7 linked regions of the Homo sapiens genome follow. The protein of the gene in region 3 purifies or fractionates together with the protein of the main gene of each other region. This does not show direct contact. Each region holds a gene or a part of one and is shown on either strand. Other genes may lie near its edges.

Evidence for each region.
Region 1: the proteins of RPUSD4 (region 3) and UBR1 purify together in Homo sapiens (affinity purification with mass spectrometry; one large-scale study listed by BioGRID and IntAct). This does not show direct contact.
Region 2: the proteins of RPUSD4 (region 3) and MTERF3 purify together in Homo sapiens (affinity purification with mass spectrometry; one large-scale study listed by BioGRID and IntAct). This does not show direct contact.
Region 4: the proteins of RPUSD4 (region 3) and TMED2 purify together in Homo sapiens (co-immunoprecipitation; one large-scale study listed by IntAct). This does not show direct contact.
Region 5: the proteins of RPUSD4 (region 3) and RCC1L purify together in Homo sapiens (affinity purification with mass spectrometry; 2 studies listed by BioGRID and IntAct, with this or other methods). This does not show direct contact.
Region 6: the proteins of RPUSD4 (region 3) and FASTKD2 purify together in Homo sapiens (affinity purification with mass spectrometry; 2 studies listed by BioGRID and IntAct, with this or other methods). This does not show direct contact.
Region 7: the proteins of RPUSD4 (region 3) and ATE1 purify together in Homo sapiens (affinity purification with mass spectrometry; one large-scale study listed by BioGRID and IntAct). This does not show direct contact.

The regions. Positions count from the first base shown.
Region 1 is NC_000015.10:43,057,539-43,061,038, forward strand, and holds part of UBR1 (E3 ubiquitin-protein ligase UBR1), read right to left. Parts: intron 2,577-3,500; coding exon 2,514-2,576; intron 2,288-2,513; coding exon 2,164-2,287; intron 1,655-2,163; coding exon 1,547-1,654; intron 892-1,546; coding exon 803-891; intron 1-802. UniProt on the Homo sapiens protein: E3 ubiquitin-protein ligase which is a component of the N-end rule pathway. Recognizes and binds proteins bearing specific N-terminal residues that are destabilizing according to the N-end rule, leading to their ubiquitination and subsequent degradation.
Region 2 is NC_000008.11:96,255,111-96,258,610, forward strand, and holds part of MTERF3 (transcription termination factor 3, mitochondrial isoform 1 precursor), read right to left. Parts: coding exon 3,247-3,500; exon of another isoform or gene 3,112-3,246; coding exon of another isoform or gene 3,082-3,111; intron 2,005-3,081; coding exon 1,852-2,004; intron 1-1,851.
Region 3 is NC_000011.10:126,205,151-126,208,650, forward strand, and holds part of RPUSD4 (pseudouridylate synthase RPUSD4, mitochondrial), read right to left. Parts: intron 632-3,500; coding exon 538-631; intron 463-537; coding exon 318-462; intron 1-317. UniProt on the Homo sapiens protein: Catalyzes uridine to pseudouridine isomerization (pseudouridylation) of different mitochondrial RNA substrates. Acts on position 1397 in 16S mitochondrial ribosomal RNA (16S mt-rRNA).
Region 4 is NC_000012.12:123,594,552-123,596,816, forward strand, and holds part of TMED2 (transmembrane emp24 domain-containing protein 2 isoform 1 precursor), read left to right. Parts: intron 1-2,053; coding exon 2,054-2,178; 3' UTR 2,179-2,265. UniProt on the Homo sapiens protein: Involved in vesicular protein trafficking. Mainly functions in the early secretory pathway but also in post-Golgi membranes.
Region 5 is NC_000007.14:75,067,303-75,070,802, forward strand, and holds part of RCC1L (RCC1-like G exchanging factor-like protein), read right to left. Parts: intron 3,468-3,500; coding exon 3,338-3,467; intron 1-3,337. UniProt on the Homo sapiens protein: Guanine nucleotide exchange factor (GEF) for mitochondrial dynamin-related GTPase OPA1. Activates OPA1, by exchanging bound GDP for free GTP, and drives OPA1 and MFN1-dependent mitochondrial fusion. Plays an essential role in mitochondrial ribosome biogenesis.
Region 6 is NC_000002.12:206,789,606-206,793,105, reverse strand, and holds part of FASTKD2 (FAST kinase domain-containing protein 2, mitochondrial), read right to left. Parts: intron 2,535-3,500; coding exon 2,420-2,534; intron 1,424-2,419; coding exon 1,304-1,423; 3' UTR 1-1,303. UniProt on the Homo sapiens protein: Plays an important role in assembly of the mitochondrial large ribosomal subunit.
Region 7 is NC_000010.11:121,921,532-121,925,031, forward strand, and holds part of ATE1 (arginyl-tRNA--protein transferase 1), read right to left. Parts: intron 2,799-3,500; coding exon 2,735-2,798; intron 881-2,734; coding exon 818-880; intron 1-817. UniProt on the Homo sapiens protein: Involved in the post-translational conjugation of arginine to the N-terminal aspartate or glutamate of a protein. This arginylation is required for degradation of the protein via the ubiquitin pathway. Does not arginylate cysteine residues.

The sequences.
Region 1 (3,500 bases), on a different chromosome or scaffold from region 3:
ACAAAAAGATACAGTAAGGTAAGAGATACACGATAGATTAATAAAACATTAAAAAGCTGTAAATTTTAGCCTTATGCTTTAGCTTCCAAAAACTAAGTAGAACTCTTGGCCACCTAATTCCTGCCCCCCACTTTAGCATACACATCTGTTCTTCTTTCCTGCTATACTTTTCAATTAGTCACTTCTATTCTTATTGTAATTTTACTAACAGGCAAATAAATGATTAGGAAGACTGAATGCATATGTGAATGTGATAACCTCCCTTTGCTCTGGGTCAGTGGGTCATTTTCCACCTATCTCTTCTCTAAGAATGCTGTTTCTATACTAGCAAATAACATTTGTGAAAATATTTATATAACGTATGAGAACGAACTTTTTTTTTTTTTTTGAGATGGGAGTCTCACTCTGTTGCCCAGACTAGAGGGCAGTGGCGCGATCTTGGCTCACTGCAACCTCTGCCTCTCAGGTTCAAGTGATTTTCCTGCCTCAGCCTCCTGAGTAGCTGGGACTACAGGCACCTGCCACCATGCCTGGCTAATTTTTGTATTTGTAGTAGAGACGGGGTTTCACCGTGTTGGCCAGGCTGGTCTCGAGCTCCTGACTTCAAATGATCCACCCACCTCAGCCTCCCAAAGTGCTGGGATTACAGGCGTGAGCCAACCCGCAGGGCCAAGAACAAACTTTTGACAAAGAAATAAATCATAACATTTAATTTTTGATTCATAATTATCCCTGTTTCTATTAATTCATTTATAAAAACTGCCTATTTCTATTTATTGATATCTAATTTATAAATAATTACCTTCACAAATTCCATAGCAAAGAGTTTTTTGTATTCCATCTCCATAAAAAAACTGCTGAAGATCAATTCATGAAGGATCTTACGGGCACCTATAGATTATTTTGGGGAGGGTGGGGGAATGAGGAGAATCACCAAGGCAAAAACCAAAAACATTCTGGCTATTAGAGTGGCAGAATATTATAAAATTACTTCACATGCAAACAGACCTCAAATAGTATTTATTGTATTAATATTTAATAACTGGAATTTAAAATACACACATATATTGCCTTTTCCCTCTTTTTCTGCACCCCTCCCACCACTTCATCTTACACTTCAATTTACTCTCTCCCAACCTTTTCATTCTTTTTCTATTTCACTGTACTTTTCCTTCTCCATGCTTTTAGCCTTTTACGTTTTGTTCTTCATTTAGATTTTTACAATGAAAATAGCATCTTTTTCGCTACTCGATAATGGCACTACTACCTGAATATATAGATACATGTATAGACACATACATATATACTCTTTTTGACTGGCTCTCACTAAATGAAAAGACTCTATAATTAAAAGACAACATCCCTGGGTTTTAACACCAAAGAATACATACTGACTGGTTAAACTTTATATTCACATGTAGTATCTTATCAATCAAGATTACAGATTTAATAACTAATTTAATAAACAAAAGATATTACAGCTCCACTTTAAGGTCATAATCTTCCTTTGCTTCCTGACAAACAGCATAAGCAAATGTCTACTTACCTTTATAAAGCTTTGCATCCCAAAGCATTAACCTGCTTATGAGACAGGGATTCTCCGAGTCAGGTTCTTCTCTAAGGCATGCTTGGCAAAAGATCTGCCTAAAGTCACCTACAAACAAAAGAGGTCACACAGTTACACAACTTGTATTCTTTTTCTTTTTAAATAGAGATGAGTCTCACTCTGTTGCCCAGGTTGGTCTTGAACTCCTGGGCTCAAGCGATCCTTCCACCTCAGCCTCTCACAGTGCTGGCATTACAGACATGAGCCCCTGTACTCAGCCATAATTTTTATTCTTATAACATTTCTCCTAAAAGTACATTTCCTATAACATGTGAAAAGAATAATATTAATCCTCCCACATTTGAGGCAAAGAATAATTCTGTCAACATCAAAGACTCAACAGCCAATAAAAAGATATTATTTGATACTATGCACTTGAAATAATATCCTAAGATATTATACATTTGAAATGCAACCCTGAAAATTAATCAAAGTGTATAAACCAAAAAAAAAAAAAAAAGAAAAACTTTATTTCATACTCAATGACATTTTAAAATTTGTGGCTATAAAACACATAGTATTTTATCAGAAACAAGAAAAACAGGAGGTATGCTTACTTGAATAGCTCATAATTTTGTTCATCCAGGAACCAAGACGCAAAGCAAATTTCTGATGAGCCATAATCTCTGAGTGTAATACTTCTACATGAAGTGGATGTTGAGAGACATTTTCTGAATGACTCTACAAATGAAGGGAACGAACCAAAAAAATAGCATTTAAAATTTGCTTTTAGTTAAGGGATTTATACTTCAAATGAAGAAATCACATAACCCTGCCAGTTCCAAATCTCTGCATCTAGGTGCCCCAAACCACTTCAACGACATCATCACTCAAATTATTCTACTTGGGCTCTTGTAATGTACATTCATCTTTAACTTCTCTTTTTCCCCCTAATTCAGAAAGTTACCTTTATATCTTCCTTTGCTTCCTGGCAAGCAGCATAAGCTCCCGCTTTAACAGCCCGACGACCCTAATTATAGACAAAAGTGAGAATTAGGTAGTGAAATGATAACCACAATCAATAAGCAATATGTAGCCCAAAGACTTAATGAGCTCTTAACTGAGCTCTAATCGCGTGTTGACTAAAAGTTGTAAGATACCGGAACAATATCTGAAAGACAGATGCAAATGTTTAACACCTTTATGAAGTATGAAAACTTTAATACCTCTAGGACAGACAGTCTATAGTTTAAGATGCTGAGTTTCTTGCCTGGCAGGAATGGCAGTTCTTTAGTTACTGCAGTGTCCTCTCTACTTATATGAAACAATGACTCAGGCTTTCTAAACTTCTGCTATGTATTTAAAATATTTTTCATGAATGAATTCACAGCTCTTCAACATGTATCCTATGATATACTTGTGGCCCATTAACGAGCGGGAAGTATAGCTGGACTACTGATTCCACCAGTCCTGGAGGCGGTCATGCAAGGTCTATGTAGGATTTCCTTGTAGCTCATTCTTTTACCCACCTGTAAAAATTCATCATTTTCTATATGTGCCATGTGAAAAAAGTCAGGAAGCACTGTCTTCCTCATTTAACCTTTACAATGACCCTATGAAGAAGGTATACCACATTTTACAGATGATAAAAAGAAAAATAAGACAGAAGTTAATTTGTCCCCCAATCAGAAAGTTAGCAAGTGACAGATTCAGAGATCCATGACAAGCATTTCATCTCCAGAGTCTGTACTTTTAACCATCCTGTAATATTCCCTCTTTAGCTGCTTAGTACATAAGCATAAGAACTATCCAAATATATTTGGACTACTAATTACACCAGTAAGGTTGCCATTACAGAAAAAAAAAAAAAAAGCACAAAAAGCCAGGCCATAAGAGATTGTTAAAAGAACAGATTGGACAAGAATAGTTACATAAACTCGAGCTCAATCAGCTT
Region 2 (3,500 bases), on a different chromosome or scaffold from region 3:
GATCTGCATTTCAGAAAGAGCACTAACACTGGAAAGATATCAGAGCCAATACTGCTGAGGAGAAGACTATCAAGATAGGAGGCTCCTGCAGCCACTCAGTGACAAATGAGGACCTAAACAAGGTAGTGACTGTAGGATGAGAGAAGTGGATGGATTTGAAAGAAATAGAGAGGGTAGAATCCATAGGATAAGCTATTAAATTAGATGTAAAGAGGAAGGGGACAAAAGCAATAAGAATCAAGGATAGGCCGAGTGCGGTGGCTCATGCCTATAATCTCAGTACTTTGGGAGGCCGAGGTGGACAGATCCCTTGAGGCCAAGAGTTCAAGATCAGCCTGGCCAACAGGGTGAAACCTCGTCTCTACTAAAAATACAAAAAATAGCCAGGCATGGTGGCACGTGCTTGTAATCTCAGCTACCAGGGAGGCTGAGGCAGGAGAATCACTTGAACCTGGGAGGCAGGTTGCAGTGAGCTGAGATGGTACCACTGTACTCCAGCCTGGGAGACAGAGTGAGACCCAGTCTGAAGAAAAAAAAAAAAAAAAAAATCAAGGATGACCCCCAAAGTTTCTAACAGAGCACAGATTTTTCTCTTTTTCCTCTCCTGTTAAAAATCACCTCCCAAAAATATGGGGAATGACAAACAAAAAATGAGATCCTTCTTTGAGGAAACGAGATTATATCCCCACATATCTGAAAACATCTGAAAACAGATGAAAGCATGGCAACAGCCTTATCGGAGAGGAGAAAGACGACACTGAAATGCCTGCAAATGAGAATCTGGCAAGTGGTAAGTGATCAGTACCACAAAAAACTCAAAAGTCTCCAAAATTGGAGTCCCTAGAAATCTGAGAGATTAGAGGTGAGGTACAGACTAAAAACTGGGGTATTGGGTATGGAGAGACCCGACCTCCCCCAAATCCAGTTCCTCTCAATGCACTAGGAGAAAGGAGATTCATTATCTGGGAAAATCAAGTATGAGAAGTACCAAACCCAGAGAAATGAGGAAAGCAAAAGTTTGTAATAAAATGCCAGACTAAAAATAAGATGACTAAATGAAAGTTTGGACGGAGATCCCCTGGCTCCCTTAAGCTATCCAGATCCAAGTGCAACCTAATGGTCAACAAGTGAAGGCAGCTATAGAGTAGGCCTAGAAACCATTCAAATCAGGAGGACAGTGGCTTCAGGAAGGAGGTCGGGGTAGTGTGACAAGCAGGGAACAATCCACTCTGGAGAAATGAAATACATCATCTGATAGGGTTACCTGGGAAAAACTGTCCTGAGAGGCTACTGGAAGGTATGGAAAAGTTTAACCCCAGAAACAAACAAACAAACAAAACAATTCATCAAATGAAGAACAAGGCAACTATTACTGCCGGAAAAATGAAAAGTTGTACAGGAAGGTAAATAATGATAGCATACTTCTTGTTAGGGCAGATAGCAATATTTATAGTCATAATTTAACTACTGACTAATGATTTATCTAAAATTGTAATTTATATTAGGAGAATTGAAAAGAATACAGGAAAAGTACATGTGTACATACAAGAGATCAAATGATGTCTAAAACTGATGAACCAAACAACAGCACTACAAACAACTATTTTAAAATGAGGAGGTTGAACACAAACAGAAAGAATGATACAAGTTAAGTAGATGCATCTGGGGAATAGGATGCAAGATCACCAAGGATGAGGCAGGGAATACGGTTTCTCACTAGAAGCCTTTATGCTATTAGACTTTTGCTTATGTTTGTATACTACTTAGTATAGATTAAATTGTTAATTTAAAAAAGTAAAAAAAGTAATGAAGAGTACATGCAAAAAGTACTTGTAGTTTAGTCAAACTTACCTAGAAGAACCAACTTCTGCAGAGTCTCAGAATGATCCACATAGTCTCGAAGTGTGAATGAAGCTGGTGGCAATGGAGGGTCTGCAATAATCTGAATAGCCTCTTCCTCTGAAATTGGCTGCATTGGAGACAATGGAGGCAATTCATCCAGTTCTTTGAAAGAGAGAAACAAATTAGTGCTCTAATATGCACACTTAAAACTATTTCTGCAAAGACCAGCTCTTCCCTTGTTTGCTTCTTTCAGTGGTTAAATCTTGGGATCATTTTAGAATTAAACATCCAAGTCCCTAATTTTTCACCTTTTAAGAGGTAAGGTTACAACTATTTAGACAGACTAACTACTGTTCCTCTGAGATTAGAAATTTGTTGGTAAATTTCAAAGCACACAATGCCTTTCCTTCACTTAATCAGTAGGTGAGAATGCTAAAAATCACCTAACTTTCAAGTGAATTTTGAAACAGAGATTGAGTTTACCATAGCCTGTTAACTTGGCTAAAAGTACACATATGCCAACAGTCTGAATTGCATGGATTAAAGTAATCATATCCCGAAAGTCTTTGTTTTGACCCAATGCCCTCCCTTCCAAGTTACCCTCAAATACATCTTTAAAAGGGCTTCTATGATTGTTTCTACAACCTGCAGTCCTCTCTACAGGAGATGTGACTCTCTAGTACAGCCCTGATTCTGAAGTTGTTTTTGTTTTTTTAAAATCAAACGCAGCATGGAAGACACTTAGAACTACACATTACCTTAAGCTAAGGAATCAGGTCTGTGATCTTTTGTTCTGTTTTGTGCTTCTCATCATTAACTATCCTTTCTCATCATTTATAGCCAGCATCTCCTCCCTGCCCTCTCCCCAGCTCTCTTTCCTTCATATTCTACTTAACCTTATATCATTTCATTACCAGCGAAATATTCCTAGAATAGGACCCATAGGAAGGAGAGGATTGACTAAAAAGCGACCATGAGGGAACTCTGTGGAGTTAATATAATTGTTTTATTTGTTGATTGCAGTAGTTCTTACACACTAAATGCATATGTCAAAATTCATAGAACTATATATCCCACAAGATGAATTTTACTTGATATAATTATACCCTAATAAAACTAATTACCACTAGAAGAATTTTGTTTTAAGAATCTAAACAATAAAATATTTAAAAAGCAAATGTTTTATATGTGTAGCTATAAAATAATCTTACACGTTAGCCCACAAACTTTTTTTCTTACCAGTAAAATAAAGGCATGATAGAAGTTCATCAATAGAACTGGTATTATTCTTTTTCTTTCTTGGCACAAAATATTACCTGAAATGGGCTAGCAGAAGGTAAACAGGTAGCTTGTTCAAATGGCCAAAGTAGGGAAAGGGAGACTTTTCTGAAAGTTCAGAATTACCTTCTAGAAACAGCTCAGAATCAAAGCTGGATATATTTTGTGTCTTCTGTGACTGTTCATTCATGGAAGGAAGCAGACTGCTTTGGGCAGAATTATTCTCCTGACTACTTGAGCTAGTAGACTGGGAACTATTCCATAAGGAGGAAGTCCTGTAAGTCTTAAATCCCCACTGGAGAAAGCAATTGTCAGAGGATATCTGAGGCTGAGCAGAAAAGCCATGTAACAGTGTTCTTGCTGGTCTAGTAAAACGTTTT
Region 3 (3,500 bases):
TAACGCTGCTATGAATATGTGTGCAAATATTTGATTTTTGGGGTATATACCCAGAAGTGGAACTGCTGGATCTTACAATAATTCTGTTTAATCGTTTTGAGGAACCACTCTACACAGTTTTAAATAGAGGCATTCAACCTGTTTGTATTCTTCTGCTAGCCACAACCATCTCTCTGGGAGTCCCCGGCCTCAGATCAGCACCAGAAGCACATTCTCACACAAGTCAGCCACACTACTAGCTGCTCAGAACGAGGCCCTGGACAAAACCTGGTGGCACAGGGTTTTGTGATCCCACTGCGGAAAAGTGACACTCTCACCAGTGATGGGCTGGAGCTCCACGAGGGCGGAGGAGAGAGTGCTGCTGAGCACCTGGTACTGAGTTACAGCAACTTGCGCATTCCGGCTGCGCCGCACTTTCACCATTTTCCCATCGTCCATGCGGTAGCTCGGGGACAATGTCATCTGAAGCCAAAGAAATCAAGATATGATTCCCAAGGAAGAGCAGCAACCCATGCCTCAGGGAGGCTGCTCGCTCACCTTGTGGTGTTGCTGCTGGCCTTGCGCCTCCTTCTCCACAATGGGGATGTCCACGACTCCTGCTGAGGGCATGGGGACATGCACAGTGATGGCCCTGGGGGTGACACAGATCACTGCTTTAGCCAACCAAGCCAGAGAAGAACTCCTAGATTTGGCCACTTAGAGGATTTCACGCTGGACCTTCTGCACTAACATGTGATTTCTTATGATTGAAGGATCGTGCAAGATTCTCTTGGTGTAATGCTTAGCCTGAGAGCTGATAGATTTCACAAGCTTATCTTTTTTACTACTAAAGTCATACATGCTAATTGTAGAATATTTGGGGTAAAAAAAGAAAAAAATTACATTAATAACATGGTCTTTCCAGTCTTTAAAAATGGATATGTACAGTTAAAATAAAATTATGGTAATATAGTTTTGTATTTTTTTTCAAATAATAAAAGATTGTAGATTCTGACTGCATGGTAAATGAACAAATGAATAATTGGATGAATGAACCTAATAAAACATTCAGAGAACCGTTCCTGGCTCATTTGCCACATAGGTAAAACAGGAGGGAACTGTACCCGAAGAAGTCACAGGGGACAGGCGTGGTGGCTCACACATGTAATCCCAATACTTTGGGAGGCCAAGGCGGGTGGATCACTTCAGGTCAGGAGTTCAAGACCAGCCTGGCCAACATGGTGAAACCCCATCTCTACTAAAAATACAAAAAAAAAATCAGCCAGGCGTGGTGGCGCGTGCCTGTAATTCCAGCTACTTGGGAGGCTGAGGCATGAGAATCGCTTGAATCCAGGAGGTGGAGGTTGCAGTGGGCCAAGATTATGCCACTGCACTCCAGCCTGGGAGACACAGCAAGACTCCGTCTAAAAAAAGAAAGAAAGAAGTCATAGGTACCACAACCACAACTCAATAACTCATTCCAAATCACTTCTGTTGGTGTTCTCCCTCCCATGACCTCATGACCTCACAGACAGGTAGAAGACTGTTTAATCTGTCTGTAAATTTATGCCTCTTTCAGGTCAATGATGGAAAAGTCCATCTGGGTACCTGGTGGTCGGTTGTATAATCACTAACCACGGGGTCAAAATCCTACTCACACACACTATTTCACAACGCAGACACTCCACTTCAGTTTCAGCTACTATCTGGTACATTTTATCGTATTTTACAGATTTTGTAGATCTTCTGTGACAAGAATGTCCTTCCTAATGATATGACACTACAACTCAAGAATGTTCCATCAGCAAGACCCAACTGATTGATTTCAATTCCTCCATGAACCTGATACCGAGAATGGTTACCAATTTTGAACCTTAATGGACATTTTTCACAAATAACATAACATGTATTTTATAGTCTTAATATTTTGATTGCTTGAATAGAAAAATAAGTCTCTATTTTTTATTTTTTAACTTTTCCTATGAACTAGGTACTGTGTTAAACATTTCACAAGAATCAATCTTATTTAACTATCTCATAAATCCTACTGTTTCCATTTTTCAGATGAAGAAAACAAAGCTTATGGACATTTAATAACCTGCCCAAGGCCCCACAGCTGTTAAATGACACAGTTGAGAGTTGAACACACATCTTTTTGAGGTCTTAGCTACTGTCCTAAATTCCTCCATTCTCCATAATCTTATCATAGTTCTTAAATTTGATTGTATATCAAATTTTAAAATACAGATGCCAATCCCCACAACCACCACACTTACGAATGAGAACTTCTGTGGGTAAGTCTCAATCATACATATTTTTAAAGGGCTCCTCAGATTCACAAAGTATCTGCAAAATCTGTAATCTAAAAAGGACTAACATTCAAAATATAAAATGAATACTTACAAATCAAATAGAAAAGAATAAACAACCTGGGCCAGACACAGTGGCTCACGCCTGTGAGCTGTAAGCGCTGTAATCCTAGCACTTTGATGGACAGATCACTTTAGGTCAGGGGTTCAAGACCAGCCTGGCCAACAGGCTGAAACCCCATCTCTACTAAAAATACAAAAATTAGCTGGGCATGGTGGCATGTGCCTGTAATTCCAGCTAGCTGAAACATGAGAACCACTTGAACCAGGGAGGAGGTTGCAGTGAGCCAAGATTGTGCCACTGCCCTCCAGCCTGGGTGACACAGCAAGACTCCATCTCAAAAAAAAAAGGCCAGGCACGGTCTTAAATAAAAAAAAATAATAATAATAAACAACCCTGTAGAAAAATAGGCAAAAGAAATAATCAGTCTGTTCCCAAAAGGGAAACTCAAATAGCCAATAAACATGTAAAAAACATGTAAATTGATAGCCAATATCACTGTTATACAAGGAAATAGAAAATATCTTTTTTTTTTTTAACTTATCACAGTGGCAAACCCTTTAAAAATGCTTTGGCTGATAAGGGGAGGTGGGTACTCACCACTGCTGGTGGGAATGTAAACTGATAAAAAACCTTTGTGGAGAGCAATGTGAGTACTATTAAAATTTAAATATACAAACCATTCAGCCCAGCGATTCAATTTTTAGAAATTTATCTTAAAAATACATTCACATATTCTTTGCAATAGGCTCTAAAAAATGAGAAATTACCTAAATATCCATCCATACAGCGGTATTTCACAGAGCAATTAAAAAGGAGACAGCTCTAAACGTATGACACAAAATGCTCTAAGATATATGATCCAAGTGAAAACTGTAGGGTACAAAACTCTGTGTGAAATACACTAGCATACAGTAATATGCTTATATATGCTCGATAACTCTGGAAGTTTACAGAAGACACCAGTCACAGCGATTGACGCTGGGGAAGGCAACTGCACAGATGGGGAATAGAGGGTTTCTTTTTTGCTCACGCATCTTTTTTCTATGAAAAACACTGAGGTAAACCTCTATGTGCTAACACAGGATGATCCCCAAGACATAGAGGTGAGCAGAGGAAAAAAGTATAATGTAAATTGTACAATGTGATAT
Region 4 (2,265 bases), on a different chromosome or scaffold from region 3:
GCTTGAGACCAACCTGGGCAACACGAGACCGTTTTTAAAAAAATAAAATAAATTGGCCAGGCGTGATGGCTCATGCCTATAATCCCAGCACTTTGGGAGGCCGAGGTGGGTGGATCACCTGAGGTCGGGAGTTCGAGACCAGCCTGACTAACATGGAGAAACCGCATCTCTACTAAAAATACAAAATTAGTCAGGTATGGTGGTACATGTCTGTAAGCTCAGCTACTTGGGAGGCTGAGGCAGGAGAATCGCTTGAACCCAGGAGGTGGAGGTTGCAGTGAGCTGAGATCGCGTCATTGCACTCCAGCCTGGGCAACAAGAGTGAAACTCTGTCTCAAAACATAAAAAATAAAATAATAATAATAATAAAATACATTTAAAAATAAAAAGAATTTGGCCAGGCGTGGTGGCTCATGCCTATAATCCCAGCACTTTGGGAGGCCGAGGCAGGCAGATCACCTGAGGTTAAGAGTTCAAGACCAGCCTGACCAACATGGTGAAGCCCTATCTCTACTAAAAATACAAAAATTAGCCAGGCATGGGGGTGTGCACGTGTAATCCCAGCTACTCAGGAGTCTGAGACAGGAGAATCACTTGAACCCAGGAGGCAGAGGTTGCAGTGAGCTGAGATTGCGCCACTGCCCTCCAGCCTGGGTGACAGTGAGACTCTGACTCAAAAAAAAGTAAGTAAATAAAAAGAATTTGATCAGAAACTTGAATGTAACAAATAGAGTATAGTAAATATAGAGTAGGTGTGGATTTTACTTTAAGGATCAAATCCTTAGTTTGAGAGCAGGACAGATGAGCATAGTTTGTCTTGTATTTGATGGTCTGGTAGTAACTGTCAGTATGGATCCATATAACTGAGTAACCTCTTCCATTGAGAACAATTGACAAGTACACAGGTGCTCAACAAATATTTGTAACATATTTGGGGAAAAAGACACTCAGACTGCCATATTTTGATGTTGTAAATAATTGCATTTTGGATAACTGTGATTTTGAAATAATTCCTTAATTTTTTTAGAAGTCAGTTTTCTGATTCAGCAAATTGGATACTAATACAGGACGTTTCAATGGTGAGGGAGAAAGATGGTTGTATTGGGTTTTAACCCTAGAATTATGACCTTGGGCAAGTCACATTTTCTTCTCTGCTCCCCATATACAAGCAGAATGGACTTGGCTGTACCCAGTGAATCTTTAAGGTTTCTTTTAAAAATCTTTGCTTCTACTTTGGGAGGCTGAGGCAGGAGGATCAGTTGAGGCCAGGAGTTCAAGACCAACTTGGGCAACATAGCAAGACCCTTTCTCTACAAAAACAGAAAAAATTAGTCAAATGGGCTGGTGCATACCTGTACTCCCAGCTACTCAGGAGGCTGAGGTGGCAGGATTGCTTGAGTACAGTTCAAGGTTGCAGTGAACTATGATTGTGTCATGGCATTCCAGCCTGGGCAACAGAGCAAACAAAAAAGTCTTTGCTTTGGAGTATGTTGAGTTGCTTGGAGACAAAAGTATTTAGAGTATAGGTGACCCATAGGTTACAATGACTTCACTTAGAAATTTTCAGCTTTATGATGGTGCAAAAGTGATGTGCATTCAGAAGAAACTGAGCATCAAGTACCCATGCAACCATTCTGTTTTTTACTTTCAGTGCAGTGTTCACTAACTTGATAAATAAAATAGAAAATAATAATAAAATGCAGTTTAACGTGTATGAGATACACAACACTTTATTATAAAATAATCTTTGTGTTGTTAGATGCTTTTGCTCAACTGTAGGCTAATGTAAGTGTTCTGATCGTGTTTTACGTAGGCTAGGCTAAGCTATGATGTTTGCTAGGTTAGGTGTATTAAATATATTTTTGACTTATGTATTTTCAACATAAGCTGGGTTTATTGGGATGTAACCCCATCGTAAGTTGAGGAACATCTATTCTATGAGTGGTGTACACAATATTACTTTCACACAGAGTGAAGACTAAAATATTTATGATGCCTATGTCTTTTTGGGGGAGAATTGTTAAATTTTGTTTGTTTGTTTTGTCCTCAACAGTCAACGACAACACAAACAGCAGAGTGGTCCTTTGGTCCTTCTTTGAAGCTCTTGTTCTAGTTGCCATGACATTGGGACAGATCTACTACCTGAAGAGATTTTTTGAAGTCCGGAGAGTTGTTTAAAAAGCCTCTTCCTGATGATCCCAACTCAGAATTCACTGTTTACCAAACACCTTGGTCATAATAATGTCATTAGTTTCTCCATTTTTA
Region 5 (3,500 bases), on a different chromosome or scaffold from region 3:
AAAAAAAAAAAAAATGCATACTTCGTCTTCTTATTAAAGAAATCTTGGCCGGGCAGTGGCTCATGCCTGTAATCCCAGCGCTTTGGGAGGCCAAGGCAGGCGGATCACTTGAGGTCAGGAGTTTGATACCCACCTGGCCAACAAGGTGAAACCCCCGTCTCTACTAAAAATACAAAATTAGCCAGACGTGATGGTGGACGCCTGTAGTCCCAGCTACTTAGGAGGCTGAGGCAGGAGAACTGCTTGAACCCAGGAGGCGGAGGTTGCCAGTGAGCCAAGATTGCACCACTGCACTCCAGCCTTCTGGGAGACAGAGCGAGACACTGTTTTAAAAAAAAAATACAAAAATACAAAAATCAGCCAAGCATCATGGTGCATGCCTGTTGGTCCCAGCTACTTGGGAGGCTGAGGTGGGAGGATCACTTCCAGCTACTTTGGAGGCTGAGATGGGAGGATCACTTGGGCCAGGGAGGTTAAGGCTGCAGTGAGCAGTGATCATGACACTGCACTCCAGCATGGGTGACAGGGCAAGACCCTGTCTCCCCTTACCCCCCCAAAAAATTAAACTGTTGGAATTTGCTTCAAATTTATTGAGGGGGAAGGTGGGAAAAATGAAGAAAACGAGACTGGCATGAGTTGATGATGCCTGAAGCTGGTGATGCCACATCATACTACTCTGCACACTTCTGTAAGTCTAAAATTGCTCTGAATAAAAGGTATAAAAAATGTAACGCGGGCCGGGCACGGTGGGTCACGCCTGTAATCCCACCACTTTGGGAGGCCGAGGCAGGTGGATCACCTGAGGTCGGGAGCTTGAGACCAGCCTGACCAACGTGGAGAAACCCCATCTCTACTAAAAATACAAAATTAGCCAGGCATGGTGGCACATGCCTGTAAATCCCAGCTACCTGGAAAGCTGAGGCAAGCGAATTGCTTAAATCCAGGAGGAGGAGGCTGCGGTCAGCCAAGATCACGCCATTGCACTCCAGCCTGGGCAACGAGAGTGAAACTCTGACTCAAAAAAAAAAAAAAAAAAGTAATGTAACATCTTACAGCTAATAAAGACTTCTATACTGACTTATAAAAGACATCTGATATATAGGTCGGGCATGGTGGCTCACACCTGTAATCCCAGCACTCTGGGAGGCCAAGGCAGGTGGACCACTTGAGGTCAGGAGTTCAACACCAACCTGGCCAACGTGGTGAAACCCCCGTCTCTACTAAAATCCCCAAATTAGCCAGGTGTGATGGCGGGCGCCTGTAGTACCAGCTACTCAGGAGGCCGAGGCAACAGAATCACCTGAACCCAGGAGGTGGAGGTTGCAGTGAGCTGAGATCATGCCACTGCACTCCAGCCTGGGCGACAGCAAGACTCCATCTCAAACAAACAAACAAAAAAGATATCTGATACAAAATAAATGAAAAAAGACAGAAAACAAAATATATGCTATGTATGTAAAAATGTATTTGTCTGTGAACAAGGGAACAGGAAAAAACAAAAATGAAAGGTTTGTCCAGTATGTACTTCTGGGTAATTTCCTATGTTATTTTATATTTATTTATTTATTTATCTTTTATTTATTTTGAGACGGAGTCTTGCCCTGTCGCCCAGGCTGGAGGGCAGTGGTGCGATCTCGGCTCACTGCAACCTCTGCCTCCCAGTTCAAGCGATTCTCCTGCCCCAGCCTCCCGAATAGCTGGGATTACAGGCGCGCGCCTCCATGCCCAGCTAATTTTTGCATTTTTAGTAGAGACGGGGTTTCACCATGTTGGTCAGGCTGGTCTCAAACTTCTGATCTCGTGATCCACCCGCCTCGGCCTCCCAAAGTGCTGGGATTACAGGCGTGAGCCACTGCGCCTGGCATTTCCTCTCTATTTTAGGAACTCTTTCTTTTTTCTTTTTTTTAAGAGACATGATCTTGCTCTGTTGCCCAGGCTGGAGTGCGGTGGCGCAATCACCGCTCACTGCAGCCTCAAACTCCTGGGCTCAAGCAATCCTCCTACCTCAGCCTCTGGAGTAACTAGGATTATAGGTGCATGCCACCATGCTCAGCTAATTCTTTTTCGTTTTTCATTTCTTTTTTTTAGAGACAGAGTCTCGCTATGTTGCCCAGCGTGGTCTGGAACTCCAGGCCTCAAGCAATCCCTCCCATCTCGGCCTCCCAAAGTGCTGGGATTACAGGCGTGAGCCCCTGTGCCTGGCCAAGGAAATATTTCTTACTGTTCTCACAGTAATTTTTAGCTAATGTCTACTTTTCTGTTTGTTTGTTTGTTTGTTTAGGACAGTCTCACTCTGTCACCCAAGCTGGAGTGTAGTGGCATGATCTCGACTCACTGCAACCTCCACCTCCCAGGTTCAAGAGATTCTTGTGCCTCAGCCTCCGAAGTAGCTGGGACTATACAGGTGCGTGCCACCATGCCCGGCTAATTTTTTATATTTTTAGTAGAGACGGGGTTTCACCATGTTGGCCAGGCTGGTCTCGAACTCCTGGCCTCAAGTGATCTGCCCTCCTCGGCTTCCCAAAGTGCTGGGATTACAGGCTGCCCTCCTCGGCTTCCCAAAGTGCTGGGACTACAGGCGTGAGGCACCACGCCCAGCCAGGCTAATGTCTACTTTTTAAAATGCCATTATAAGTTATTTCTAACATTTTTACAATCCAAGGCTCAAACATTTGGAATAAAGCCTCCATGTTAACGATTTCAATGCTTTTTCCCTCCAAAACATATTCTAGGCACTGCAGAGTACTTCACGCTGTCTGTCTCCAAGCCAGGAAAAAAAGGTCATCTCTTTTAGGCCACAAAAGAACATCTTTACTTATCTGCAAATGCCAGGTGCTTGCCTTTTGCCTGAGGGTTCAACATTGTTACCAAAGAGGCTAAAAAATAACCTAGCCCAGATGGTTTCAAACAACATCCCTTTAAGTCTTCCTCTATTTCTTTGCTATTTCTTTGTTTATGTAACCATGTTCTTGAACACCAAAGGGAGGGCTGGGCGCTGTGCCTCATGCCTGTAATCACAGCACTTTGGGAGGCTGAGGAGGGTGGATCACCTGAGCTCAGGAGTTCGAGACCAGCCTGGTGAACATAGTGAAACCCCAACTCTACTAAAAATGCAAAAATTAGGCAGGCATGGTGGCATGTGCCTGTAATCCCAGCTACTCGGGAGGCTGAGGCAGGAGAATCACTTGAACCCGGGAGGTGGAGGTTGCAGTGAGCCAGGATCTCGCCACTGCACTCTAGCCTGGCAACAGACTGAGACTCTGTCTCAAAAAAAATACAAAAAAAGAGCTTTCTCAGACCAATCCCGGCAAAGAGGAGACAAGGTAGGGATGCTCACTTTTATCTTTCCGGCTCCTGTGAAATCCAAGCTGAGAATCTTTGTTGAGTCCCATCCCCCAGACTTTCGTAACATCCGCAGTCTTAGAGGACAGCAGTGTGAATCCATAGCCGCAAGCAGCAGATGAAATCTGAAAAGCAGTTCCCACAAAGCATGAACTGAT
Region 6 (3,500 bases), on a different chromosome or scaffold from region 3:
GGATTATAGGCATGCACCACCATGCCCGGCTAATTTTTTGTATTTTAGTAGAGATGGGGTTTCACCGTGTTGGCCAGGATTGTCTTGACCTCCTGACCTCATGATCAGCCCACCTCGGCCTCCCAAGTGCTGGGATGACAAGCACGAGCCACCGTGCCCAGCCCAGTTTTTGTATTTTCTTATAAGCCTATGTTAGCTCACATTCAAACTCCAGCCCTCCCCTACTCTGTGTAGCCTTGGGCAAATACCTATCCTGATTTTAGAGATGAGGAAGTGAAGACACAGAGAGAATCATAATAGCAGCTACACCTCAAAGGGTTCAGATCATGAAAAGGCAGCACACAAATGAATACTTAGCAGTGCCCGGCACATACTAAGATGTCTAGTAATTGCATGTCTGTGTGCTTGGGGGCAGAATAACACCAACTTGCATGGAACCCATGCTGTAAGTTCCACAAGAGACCATGCCTATTCATCACTATATCCCCAGCGAGCCAAATACTAGGTAGACAGGCATATTGAACAAAATAGTTGAATTTGGACAAATATTTGAACAAAGAATGAACACACATAATCGAAAAAATAGTCCTCAGGTCTGATTCACAACACAATTCAGCTATATATTTAATTTAAAAGACTTCATGAAATTGTGGGAGGGGTAAGGGGGAAAAAAGAAAGAGAAAGGAAGGACCCCAACAACAGTAAGACTCCTTACCATCTACATCTCATCTGTGTTTCTCTTATTATAACCCATGAAATATCTCTACCTGCAGTGCTTATTACAAATACAAATACCATCCTCACTCATTTTCAACAGCTACCTCACTAATTCTTACACACTTGACAACTTTAGAACTTTGTCCAATTATTATTTGGCCAATGCTTGAAAATGATTTAAAGGCATAACCCCAAGTCTTAGAACAGCTTAGAGCAGGAGTATAAATATTCAGATTCCAAAGACAAGGACTACTACCCACATCAACCTGCCTGTGACACCTCACAACTAAGAAACCAGTTTTTAGTAGATCAAAGATGAAAAGGTGAAACGTACAGCTCACAAATCAAATATCTGGGCACTAGAGGGAATAGGTGTGGTTGGAAAAATAACCCTTCTGGAATTTTCTCAGCATATTTTTAAATGGCAGTAACAACATTTCTTCCACTCCTAAAATTAATTTTAATAGTGAACTGAGGTAACATTTTTTGTCTTAGCAGATAGCTCAATTCCATTGACAACTGACTTGTCATCTTTATTAATTTTTACAAATGCATGTCTCCTAATATGAAAAGGTTGATTTTCACTTTATTGTGTGCTTTGCACATTTACAGCAGCAACAGGAAGAGCTTCTACTGAATAGATTTTAGTCTTCAAAAATGTGACTGCATCTTCCATCTCTAGTTTGTCCATCTCCCAGTTATTGACCTTACCAAAGAAAGAGGAAAATAATCAGTTTGTGAGACGATACTAACAAAAGAGCTAGTTTAGAGATCCAAACATAGTAAAGTAACATGAGGACAATAGCTTTTTGAAAGCAAATGTGACCTTATAACTACTCATATTTTAAAGGCATAATAAGACTACATGCTAGGGTTTAAGAAAGCTTTAACTGTGAAAATTATACAAATTTTAAAGGTCCTCTAAATGGTGCAAAAACTGCTTTCTTGAGAAAATCTTCCTTAGAATATATATAATCAGCAATATAAAAAACAAAGTCTTAAATAGTAGCCCACTAAGAGAAAGGAGTCATCTTAATCTCAATAGTCCACACGTAATCCATTTCCAATACTAAAGTATAATAATAGAAGACTTGGAATGTTTACATCTTACATTATGCGCAGGACCAAATGAGTGGCATTTAGATAGATTCCAACAGCAACATATATATAAATGTATTTGTAAGGTTCCTACTACCTAGAAACATCAGAAGAGGCTGTTCAAGAGAAGCTGTGGGGTACAAAATAAAATTGAAGCATAAGAGGGAAGAGAAAGACCCATCTTCTTAAAACCATCCAGCCTTTTCTGGCAACAAACATCCTGTAACAGCTTCACACAGGCCATGAAAACAAAGCTTTAACATCTTTCCTTCCCTTGTTCAAGATAACCTGGAAATTAAATATGGTTTTGTGTATCTTAAATATGAAAATATATTATTTGCATTCTTCTTCTTAGCAAAAAAGGATTAAAGCTGACCAGAACAACATTTGTAAAAGCTCTAGTAATGACAGTAATCAGCTGAGCAGAACCCAAATCGTGTACTAGCAATGTTCTTTTTCAAAGAAAACAGTAACTAAAGCACTCATTCCAATAATGCTGACAATTCCTCTAGTCCTAGTAACCAGTCTCAACCACAAGATTCCTGGCAGCTGTTAGAATGTACATCAGTAATTAAAGAATATTTCATTTGCATTTTTTTCTCACCAAGATCACATGAAAACCCATTGCATTCAAATGCCGCATTTTCATAGCAAGGAATCCTCTGGGGTGGCTTGAACCCAAACAATAAGCAGATCTGGAAACACATAGCACAGCTACTCTGAAAACAAAAATAAACAAAACAAGAACAGTTATTGATATTACTATTTAGTCTTGCTGCATTCTTGTTCTCTGGAGATTTCCAAGTTGAGCTCTCCACCGACCACAATCCTTGATATTCCTGTCTTAGTCCTTCACTTCTTTTACTTGGCCTCTGCAGATATTCCACTATACAAGGCTACTTTATAAATCAAAAATATACAACATTATACACAGTTACCTCTCAGTTCCCTTTAAGGATGGCTACATTTTTGAAGAGGAAAATTTTCAGACATGAAAGCACCAATTTTAAGGGTTTTCTGTGTAGTGCTGATTTCTGATCTGAGTATAATTATTTATTCTACCAGTAGTAGTAACGGTGTAAATAATACCAAATAGTAAATGCTCTTCTTACACATATCATCTCCCAGAGAAAGCAGCATTTAAAAAACAGAAATAGGAGTTTAAATACAAGAAAGAAAACACCAAGAGAAAGGCAAGACTGTTAAAATAAAATCTGTAAATATAACGAAAATGTGGAAGGTGTAATTTGTTTTTTCATTGTTCCTGGCACTTTGGAAATACTAAGTTTACTGGGAGAAAAAAAGAAAAAAAAAAGACATTTATATCCTTACTGCCTTCACCTATACTCTGGCTGTTATAAGACAAATTTTATGTTTTTAAAGGAATGCTCACATTCTTCACTTCTCATGACTTTATGCTGAGAACAACTGTTATTTTATTATGCCAGAATAGCGGAGTACCCGAAAAAGAAAACTGATCTTGGAATGAGGTCAGAGAGAAAGCCTCTTCTGAGGGGAGATGGGTAGCACTAATAGGAAAGACAGCGGTTGAAAAGATGGCCAAGAAATAAGCTAGATGCATTCAGAAAGAGGTGAAAGTCACAGAACTGTGTGTGAATGAAGAGGGATGGGCAGATAAGAGCTTGGATCCCTACAGATTTTTTTGTATGTTTCTATCATATTTA
Region 7 (3,500 bases), on a different chromosome or scaffold from region 3:
GTTCTCTGTAACTAGTGACTTCAAGTATTGTTTTATCTGAGAAGTACAATGAATGTCATGAGAAGCCTGAGTAGGCCTGAACTGCAGCTGCCTGGGCACCATAGTGAAGATTATGGGATAAGCCCAGGCAAACCTAGATAACGGACATCTGGGTTGCTTGGCAACGGTCATGTGCAATCCTGAGTTTGTCCTGCCTCTGTATCCCTGCTTTCACGCCACTGTAAGCTTGCTTCAAGCTAGCCCACCCCCTTCTGTGAACTGTGTATAAAAGTCTTTGTTCCGGGCCCAGTCTTTTAGACGTTGAGTCAGCTGGGCCTAAGTGCACTCAATAAAGTTTCTCCTGTTTTAACCCGAGGTCTCTCTTGTCCTCCTGAATCCCACAACATGAGAACGTGAACCTACCAAGTAATTTATAGGAGCCTGTAGCATTGCTTGAACACAAGCACTGTGTCAAGCAATACACCAGAATGCAGAAAATTCTAAGCTAAGTCCTATAATATTTAATATCCAAAAGTAATGTGAATATTTACCAACATTTTCCCAATATTTCATGGCATTCATTGACAAGATTGCTAAATTAAGAGGGTATTTTTTTCACATATTTATATCTGAACCAATCAAACAATATTACTAAAACCTACTGATCAGCACATAAATACAGCATCAGTATGAAGAAAAGACATAACTCATTTACTTTTCCTTTTAAAGGACATCTACCTAGAGCGGAAATAAACATTAAAAAAGCACAAGAGACTACTAAAATATTATACACAATCTTCATACTATAAATCCTCTTTCTACTAATTAAAATTCTTACCTTATTGTGTACTGAGGACAACATGTTTGATTCATGACAGGTTTGTACACATATTTTCCACTTCTAAAATTATAAAAATAGTTTGTTAATGTCTTATATATTTTTCACTTGCACCAAAACAGCCTAGCACAGGAGCATTAAATTAAGGTTAAAAATCTAATCAACATTGTAGAAATGCATGTAGGTTTAATTACTCTTCATAAGCCAAATAATCTTCAAAGTGCGTGTAGCAAAGTTTAGAACCCTGCCTTTTATTTCCTAAAGCTTTACTTGTGTACCCCACGGCCAATCATCTCAGTTCCCCTCTCACCAGCATCTGCCACCCCTGCTCTGCCTTCACCTGCCACCAATCCCCAATACCACAAGGGCAATGAGAGAAATGCCCACGATGCTGTGGGACTCATGTATGTGATGCCTGTGACAACCACACTTGGGTATTCCACATGCACCAGCACGGAGTACCCCAAAACTAACCCGCTTCTTTCCATGCATTCCAGGTCTATGGTACTAACAGAACTGTTCATTCTGTTCTCAAGTCAGAGACCTGGGAGTCATTTTAAACTCCTCCCTGGAATTCACCTCTATATCCTATTAGCAAGCTTTCCTTCATTTTAAACCCTATCCTAAATTGTCCCCTCTTCTCTATCACCATTGCCACTAAGGTGACAGTCCTCATCATCGCACATCTGGATAGCGCAATAACCTTTGAACTCATCTTCCTGCCTCTATGACCCCCCCTCAAATACCTCTCAGCCATCTGAACAATCTTTTCTAAAACAAATTCCTTCACATTTCTCTCTTACCATAAAATCCTTCCATGACTGCCTTCTAAAAAGTTCTGGCCAGGCATGGTGGTTCATACCTATAATCCCAACACTTTGAAAAGCTAAGCTGGAAGAACACTTGCAACCAGATGTTCGAGACCAGCACGGGCAACATAGCCAAGATCTTACAAAAAACTGAAAAATTAGCCAGGTGTTGTGATGCACACCTGTAGTCCTAGCCACTGCAGAGGCTGAGGCAAGAGGATCACTTGAGTGTGGGAATTTGGGGTTACAGTGAGCTATGATGATGGCACTGTACTCTAGCCTGGGCAAGAGAGCGACTCTAGCCTGGGCAACAGAGCGAGACCATGTCTCTAAAAAAAAAAGTTCCTTATCATGGCATGTGAAGTCCTTTAAAATCTGACCTATGTCTACCTTTTGAATCTCATTAAGTTTAAGGAAAGTTGTGATATTTCAGCTGGTGCTCCCAATCCCACGTCTTTGGCAAGTATTAGCGTACAGTATTTAATATTACTTATATTTACACAAGGAACTTTACCTAAGAGTTACTTAAAAATCATCCACATAAAAATAACTACTCAAAACAGGCCATGTGTGGACTTTAAGGAAATCCTTATCCAAATAAACTGTTAAAGAAGACATTTTTGAGACAATCTGGAAAATCTAATAAAAAGTAGGTAACAGGTAACATCAAAGAATTTTTATTAATTTTGTAAGGTGTGATACAGCATTGTGGATAAGTTAAAAAGAAAAAAAGACCTCTCTCTTAGAGATACATACTTATTGCCTATCTATTGATAGGATAAATGTCATAATAACCTACTGATGTAATTTGCTGTTAAATATTAAAAGGTGGAGCAGGAGAATCAAACATGATTGGCAGAACGTTAATAACTGCTGAAGCTTAGTGATAGGTACTTGAGGTTCATTCTAATGTACTCTCTGCTTTTATAGATATTTGACATTTTCCTAACAAAGTTTTTTAAAAAGGAGACAAAAAATCACTACATAAAAGAATATAATAAAAATTTTTCTTAAACCTCTTTCCAACAGGAAAGCATTTCAAAGGCATGCTGTATTTTTCAAGAACCTGAGTAACAGTAGGAAGTCTCTTTGTATCTGGAAGCTTTACCTTCGCCATCCTCGGTCTATGAGATCCTGATAATCCTGTACTGTCATGGAATGTGCCCACATGCCTGAAAAAATAAGTAGTGTGTTAATTACGGCAGGGTAACCTTTTTTCTTTTTTAAATTCAAAGTGTGAGGTTTAAAAATAGGAGTGTGTGTCCGGGCACGGTGGCTCATGCCTGTAATCCCAGCACTCTGGGAGGCCAAGGCGGGCAAATCACAAGGTCAGGAGTTCAAGACCAGCCTGGCCAACATGGTGAAACCCCATCTCTACTAAAAATACAAAAATTTAGCTGGGCATAGTGGCGGGCGCCTGTAATCCCAGCTACTCAAGAGGCTGCAGCAGGAGAATCACATGAACTCGGGAGGCGGAGGTTGCAGTGAGCCAAGATCACGCCACTGCACTCCAGCCCTGGCGACAGAGTGAGACTCCATCTCAAAAAAAAAAAAAAAAATAGGAGTGTTTAGGTTAAAATTCCAAAACACTCATATTGGATAAATGAAAAGTTTGTACATACTTCACAGCTGTTAGTTGGGCATACACACAGCACAAATAAAGAATGACACTATATATATTTTCATTCAAAAAAACACATCGAAGTTAATTATATTTATTTGAGGATTAGTCAATAGTCTCTATGACAGCATAAATTTAAGTCCTCACTGCAATCAGACTGCATCAGACCTTCAAACTTTAATAAATATCCCCAATGATTTAACATGCTGGTCTCTTCAGAAAACTTAGCAAAATGTTTTGTGCTTATTAGTTC